2 linked regions of the Homo sapiens genome follow. The gene in region 2 interacts genetically with the main gene of each other region. Each region holds a gene or a part of one and is shown on either strand. Other genes may lie near its edges.

Region 1 (3,795 bases), on a different chromosome or scaffold from region 2:
AAGGTGAGCCTCCAGCAAATGGTATGCATTTCAGTGTGGCCTTGAGTTGCAAAATAACAGAAAAGCTTTCTAGGAGAAATGGGGAGCCATGGCAGGTTCTTGAGAAAGTAAGGGACTGGCAGCAGCTACAGAGGGATGAAGTCAGACGGGACAGAAGGAGGCCACTGAGAAGCAGAATATAGGTAGATGTGACGAGCTGCATGGGAGGTCTCAAAACTGGAGACCGTTGGGCTAAATTCAAGTTTCAGACATTTCGTTTGGCTGCATTCCTCCCCAGCGTGGACCTCGTGTTTGAGATCTGAGCATGACTAATTCAAAGCCATAGTTGGAAAGGGCCCATGCTTTGGGTGAGTGACACTGGGCTCAGTGTCTCTCTGGGTCTCAGATTCCCCATAGAGCCTTCTAATTTTTGGACTAGATTCTGTGACCTAACTTTGCCTCATTTTAGACCCGGGATAAGACATGTTTAGTACATGCCTAGACAGGACAAACCACTCTGAGACCACACAGTGGCCAATTGCACGTCCTCCCTCAATAACTATCGCACAAAGCTAAGGCCACCAATGCTTTTATTTATCGCTTTGCGTGGAGACAAAGCACAAGCTCCGAGTGTGCTGGGAGCTCTCCATTAACTAGAGCTCCTGGTTGGGGTGGAGCTCTGGGAAAAGAAGAGGACCCTGCCAGGGAGATATTTCATTGGCCAGAATCCAGAGGATGGAGCCCATTGGTTGGAACTCTGGTTGAAACTGGAACTCTGAGAAGGGTGGAGAGAGCCCCCAGGTGGGACTCTGGGACAGGGGGCGGGGCGAGGAGTGAGGGAGCAGGACTCTGGTGGGCCAGGCCCTCCCACTGGCTGGGTTCCAGCAGTCGGTGGCAGGTGGGCAGGCGCCTACTTCTGGGCGGGGATCATGTCGTCAATGGACTGGCCTTTCTCCAACTTCTTCTCCATTTCCACCATGAGCTTCACACCATCCACCACCAGCTGCACCTGTTCTACTTCGGACGAGCCCAGCCGATCAGCGTTGGACACGTCAAATACTGAGCCCACGGCAGCTGTGTCCACGCCACCTGTGGGAGCAAGGGACAGGGGCGTGAAGAGGCAGCGAAGGTGCAGAGGGGCTGGGACGTGGCCCCCGTGCCAAATGCAACAGCCGCATGTAGTGAGTGCCTACTGTGTAACAGGTTACCTGCACACAGGTAATGCCTGTTCATTCGTGAGCTCACGAGTCTCTGACTTCAGATGGGGTACCACGCCACTCAGTTATCAAACATAGTATAGTGGGTAAGAGAGTGGGTTCTGGAGCCAGGCGGCCTAGGGTCGAATCCTGACCACTCCTCGCTTTATAAATGGGGAAACTGAGGCCCCGAGGGAGGTCCAAGGGCATGTGCAATGCATATTATATAATCATGAAAATCCCACATTGACTCCTATCACATAGGCATATTGACACCCATTTTACAGAGGAAGAAATGCAAGCTCACAGAGGGTCAGCCCTTGCCGGATCCCCAGAACTCGCAGGGATGTCGCACCTCTCCTTGCATCCCTGCAAAGGGCCCTCGCTCCCCCTCCGTCGTGGTGCAAAGGATGTGGGAGCCGTACCTGTACCCCTCTTCTGCAGACGCAGGCGGGTGAGGATCTCCTCGAACTTGGGGTGCTTGCTCAGGTGCGCCAGCTTCACATGCACGCCTCCACGCAGCCCAGTGCCCAGGTTGGATGGGCAGGTGAGCACGTAGCCCAGGTGCTGGTTCCACATGAAGGGGTGGCCAGCTTTCTTAAAGATCTCCTCAATCTGAGGTTCAGAGAGAGGACCAGGGGTCAGCGCCGGCAGGCACCCCCAAATGCACCCGCAACATGGACAGGGTCCGGAGGGACAGGGCGTGGGAACGTGGTGGAGGTGGGATTCTGAGGGGAACAGGGAGGTAGGAGATTCCGAGGGTGCTGGCTAGACAATGGGGACCAAGGCAGGATTTTGAGGGGCGGGGACTAAGAACGCTTTGAAGGCGGGTTTTTTTTTTTTTTTTTTCCAGAGTCTCTCTGTGTCACCCAGGCTGGAGTGCAATGGCGTGATCTCGTCTCACTGCAACCTCTGCCTCCCAGGTTCAAGCGATTCTCCTGCCTCAGCCTCCCGAGTAGCTGGGACTACAGGCGCGCGCCACTACGCCTGGATAATTTATTTATTTATTAATTTTTTAGTATAGAGACGGGGTTTCACCATGTTGGCCAGGCTGGTCTTGAACTCCTGACCCTCCTCAGCCTCCCAAAGTGCTGGGATTACAGGCGTGAGCCACCGCTCCCGGCCTGAAGGCGGATCCTTACGGGCGGGGCTTGGGCATAGGGTGGAGCTGGGTCCAGGGGCGGGGCCCTGAAAAGCGGGTGGGGCTAGTTTTGGGGGGCGGGGTTTGGCATGGGGTGGAGCCAGGTCCGGGGGGCAGGGCCCTGGAAAATGGGTGGGGCAGGGCTTAGTATAGGGGAAGGGGCGGGGCCTCGGAAAGCAGGTGGGGCGTTCAAGGTGGAGTCAGAAGTCAGCAGCTAAGGGCAGACACCCACCTTCTGCAGCCCTACGCAGAAGCGGCGGAAAACCTCCTTCATGTTGCCCCCCTTCTCCATGGAGATGACCCGGAGGTGATCCTCCTCGTTCACCCACACCAGGAAGCTCTTGTTGTCATTGTGCCTAGAGTAAGGTGCCGCAGCAAGAGGCCAAGGTGTCAGCCCCGTGGGAACCCCATTCCCAGCCCTCCCCCAAAACATCTGCCCACCGATGGGGGAAGAGGGCCTGAGGGGTGGGAGGTGGGTGGCATCTGCCTCCTCAAAACGCAGAAGCTTAAACCTGTAGACTCTAATGTCACAGGATCTGCAAAACGCTGAATCCTGGGATCAAGGACTTTTAGGGACTTAAGTCTTTGAACAGTATTATTATAGATCCTTGGGATCTCAGGATGTTTGACAAACAGAAGCTTGGGATCAGAACTGATAACACTTGGTAATCCTACATCTGGTTTCAGGACCAGAAAATCTTCCCATCGTAGTGTGTTAGCTCCCAATCCTAGCATCTCAGAAGCAGGATCTTAGAACATAAAATATTAAGGCTGGGTGCGGTGGCTCACGCCTGTAATCCCAGCACTTTGGGAGGCCGAGGCGGGCGGATCACAAGGTCAGGAGATCGACACCATCCTGGCTAACACGTCGAAACCCTGTCTCTACTAAAAAATACAAAAAAAAATCTGGGCATGGTGGCGGGCATCTGTAGTCCCAGCTACTCAGGAGGCTGAGGCAAGAGAATGGCGAGAACCCGGGAGGTGGAGCTTGCAGTGAGTCGAGATCGCGCCACTGCACTCCAGCCTGGGCAACAGAGCGAGACTCCATCTCAAAAAAAAAAAAAAAAAAGAACATAAAATATTAAGATCCGGAAATGGCCGGGTGTGGTGGCTCATGCCTGTAATCCCAGCACTTTGGGAGGCCAAGGCCGGAGGATTGCTTGAGCCCAGGAGTTCAAGACTACCCTGGGCAACATGGCAAGACCCACATATCTACAAAATTTAAAAAATTAGCAGGCATGGTGGGACACATGCCTGTAGTCCAAGCCACTGGGGAGGCTGAGGCGGGAGGATCACTTGACCTTGGAAGGTCCAGGCTGCAGCGAGCTATGATCCCACCACTGCACTCCAGCCTGGGCAACAGAGCAAGACCCTGTCTCAAAAAAAAAAAAAAAAAAACCTGAGGGCAGGCATGGTGGCTCACGCTTGTAATCCCAGCACTTTGGGAGGCTGAGGTGGGCGGATCACTTAAGGTGAAGA
Region 2 (2,826 bases):
GAGAACAAGCGAGAAGAACCAGTCACACAAAACACCCATGAAGAAAGCAACACGACTAAGGACAGACACAGGAAGTCCCAGGTCCAGCAGCTCAGGGAGGAAGGCAGGGAAGGAGGAGAAGCACCGAGCTGAGAAATGGGTAAGAAGGGGCTGCCCCATTTTGGGCCGCAGAGGAGAAAGGGGCAAAGGAGGTGGCCAGAAAGGGCCTGACAAGTTCAACCGGCCAGCAGCTACCACCCTGACCAGATCCGCATTCCAGCCCGGCCCCTCACACACTCAGCTCCCACTCCAGGCCCACACTCAATCCTGCTGCCACAGCCTTCATACTCCGCCTGGTTGCCCCCAGCTCAGCACCCCCTACTGTGGAGGGTCTGCAGCCCCGTCCCCCAACCCACTAGGGTAATGCCTGATGCAGGAGAGCAATTTGGTCCCCTGCAGCCATGGTTGGGAGAAAAGGCAAGGGATGAGGAGACCAAGGGCCTGGAAACTAAGACCTCTGGAAGGAACCCGCAAACAGGCGCTCTGTGGGACCAAGAAGTTCGGTGAAGTTCTACAGGGGCCCAGACCCCAGAGCCGGTGGTGGTCATGGTGCAATGAAGCTATGAAGGCAGAGAGCATGAGGCTGGAGGAGTGAGGGGGCTGAGATAACGGAGATGGGGTGAAGAGGTCATGGAGCCGGGCCGAGGGTCAGCCTGGGGGCATACCGGGGAGGCTAGGCGGCAGGACAAAGCAGACAGAGGCAGCCTGGGCCAAAGGCACAGTTCCGCTCAGATATTTTATTTGTGTTTGTCTTTTTCTTTTTTTGGTGGGGGGAAGGGGACAGGTTGGAAGGGAGACAGAAAAACAAAATCAAAGAGGAGAAAAAAAACATGACTCTTCCCACCCTCCACCACCCCTGGCCCCAGGCCTGAGTCAATGAGGGTGAGGATGAGCACACACAGCGGGCGAACAGCAATAACTTAGGGGAGGAGCGCCAGGAGAACACAGAGTGACTGCTGGACTCCACAGCTGAGGAGGCTGCCTGTCTAGAGGTCCGAAGGGCTGGGCCTGGGGTAAGTGAGCAAACTGAGGAAGGTGGGTGAAAAGAGAGGACTAGGGACTGGAGAAACTTCACTGAGTCGTGGGAGATAAAGTGCTCAATGCTCTAGATTTGGGCTGGAAGGGCTGGAGTCAGCTACCTCCAGGGGGGCAGGGCCCGGGACTGGCGGGTGCGTGACCTCCGCCCGGCTAGAGTCCCTGGCAGTGGCTGGCGGGAGGCAGGGGGCCCTAGCTGGCGCTGGCTGCGTGGTAGTAGCCGGGGGATTCGGGTGGGCCGTTCACCCCGAAGCAGGCCCCAGCTGGCCAGTGTGTGGATGGCCCACGGGGGCAAGTGGGATGCTAAACCCTGGCTGGCCCGTGCCAGACGCCAGTTCCAGCCCTTGCACAGGACCCAGACCCTTGCCAACAGAGCTAATGGGTGTTGGGTGGTGCGGGGATTACGCCGCCGGGGCCCAGGGACGGGCAGGCGGCTGCGGAAGCCATCCTTGTTGGTTTTGGGGTACAGTGCAAACAGACCCCGGTCCCCCACAGCCCCACAGCCCTGCAGGGCCCGGAAGGCCATGGGTGACAGGCGCAGCAGAACCCGCAACCAGAGTCGAGATATGCCCCGGCGCACCCGGGGGCCCTGCTGCCGCACCCATCTGCCCCCCGCTGCCATAGCCACCAGAGGTAGAGCTAGGCCTGGCCAAGCTAAGAGCCAGGCAGCTCCAAGGCCCAGGGGAACACCCATGAGGCCTCGGCGCCAGCTCAGGCCCAGGACGGCCCCCAGTGCGGTACCCTGGGCCAGGAGTAGGAAAAGACTGGAGGGCAGGTGCAGGGCTGTACAAAGGAGCAGGTAGGAGGCCCCCAGACCCACCAGCCCCACCTCAAGGGCCAGCAGCGCTGCCTGCAGGCCACCCCCACCCTGGGCTGCCAGCAATGGAAGCAGCAGCAGCAGCAGGAGGGGCAGGAGGCCAGAGGAGGACCCCACTGCAAAGGAGAGGCCGGCCAGGAGGCCATGGGACAGGAGTCCAGGGAGCTGGCTGGCAGGGCAGGGCCTCAGGTGTGTTGGAGGGGGTTCAGGAGGGATGTCGGGGGAAGGACAACCATCTCCAGGATCCCTAGGGGTCCCAATCGGAGCCCCCTCTTCCTCTTCTTCCTCCTCCTCAGGGACGGGAGTCAGTGCTGGGCCCTGGACCCAGCCAAGCTCAAACTCCTCATCCAGAAGACTCTCATCCTCCTTCCCCCACAAGCTCCATGTCCCAGCCTCCTCCTGGCCAACAATGCTCCTCTCCTGGGGTACAAGGGAGGGCACCCTAAGCTCCTCTATCTCCTCAGGCAGACCCCAAACTTCCTCATCAACCAGGCTCCCATGTTTTTGTGGACTGGGACTAGGGGCTCCTGATTCTTCCCCCAGAATCCTCTGCTGCTTGGGCTCCAAAGTGGCCCCTTCCTTTCCCAGAATCCTTCTCTCTCCAACTGCTTCCTCCTCCTCGCCAAGCATTCTTTGGTCCAGGACTGCCTCCTGGCCAGGTGAGCAGGGCTGCTGTTCTATAGGGGTGCCTGTGTTGGGTGGGCCCAGAGCCCCAGGAATGGGGAGTGGAAGGCCCGGGGGGCGCTGGCCTGCACGTACTTTGAGGCTCTTGGGCTGCTGGCGAACCTGGGCCGCATGCTTCTGCCGCAACTCTTGCTCACGCCGCTTGTTGTACTCCAGCTGGTTGCCCAGCTCCGTCTGGTGCTGCAGGCGGGTGAGCTCAGCCCGCGTGCGCTGCACGGCCTGGAGCTGCCGCAGCTCCAGCTCCCGCGTGG

Evidence for each region.
Region 1: changes in TAOK2 (region 2) and CKM together harm fitness less than expected from each alone (positive genetic interaction), as found in Homo sapiens cells (one large-scale study listed by BioGRID).

Annotation. Positions count from the first base shown.
Region 1 is NC_000019.10:45,305,861-45,309,655, forward strand, and holds the end of CKM (creatine kinase M-type), read right to left. Parts: intron 2,673-3,795; coding exon 2,549-2,672; intron 1,791-2,548; coding exon 1,601-1,790; intron 1,069-1,600; coding exon 890-1,068; 3' UTR 553-889; downstream 1-552. UniProt on the Homo sapiens protein: Reversibly catalyzes the transfer of phosphate between ATP and various phosphogens (e.g. creatine phosphate).
Region 2 is NC_000016.10:29,986,329-29,989,154, reverse strand, and holds the end of TAOK2 (serine/threonine-protein kinase TAO2), read right to left. Parts: coding exon 1,175-2,826; 3' UTR 797-1,174; downstream 1-796. UniProt on the Homo sapiens protein: Serine/threonine-protein kinase involved in different processes such as membrane blebbing and apoptotic bodies formation DNA damage response and MAPK14/p38 MAPK stress-activated MAPK cascade.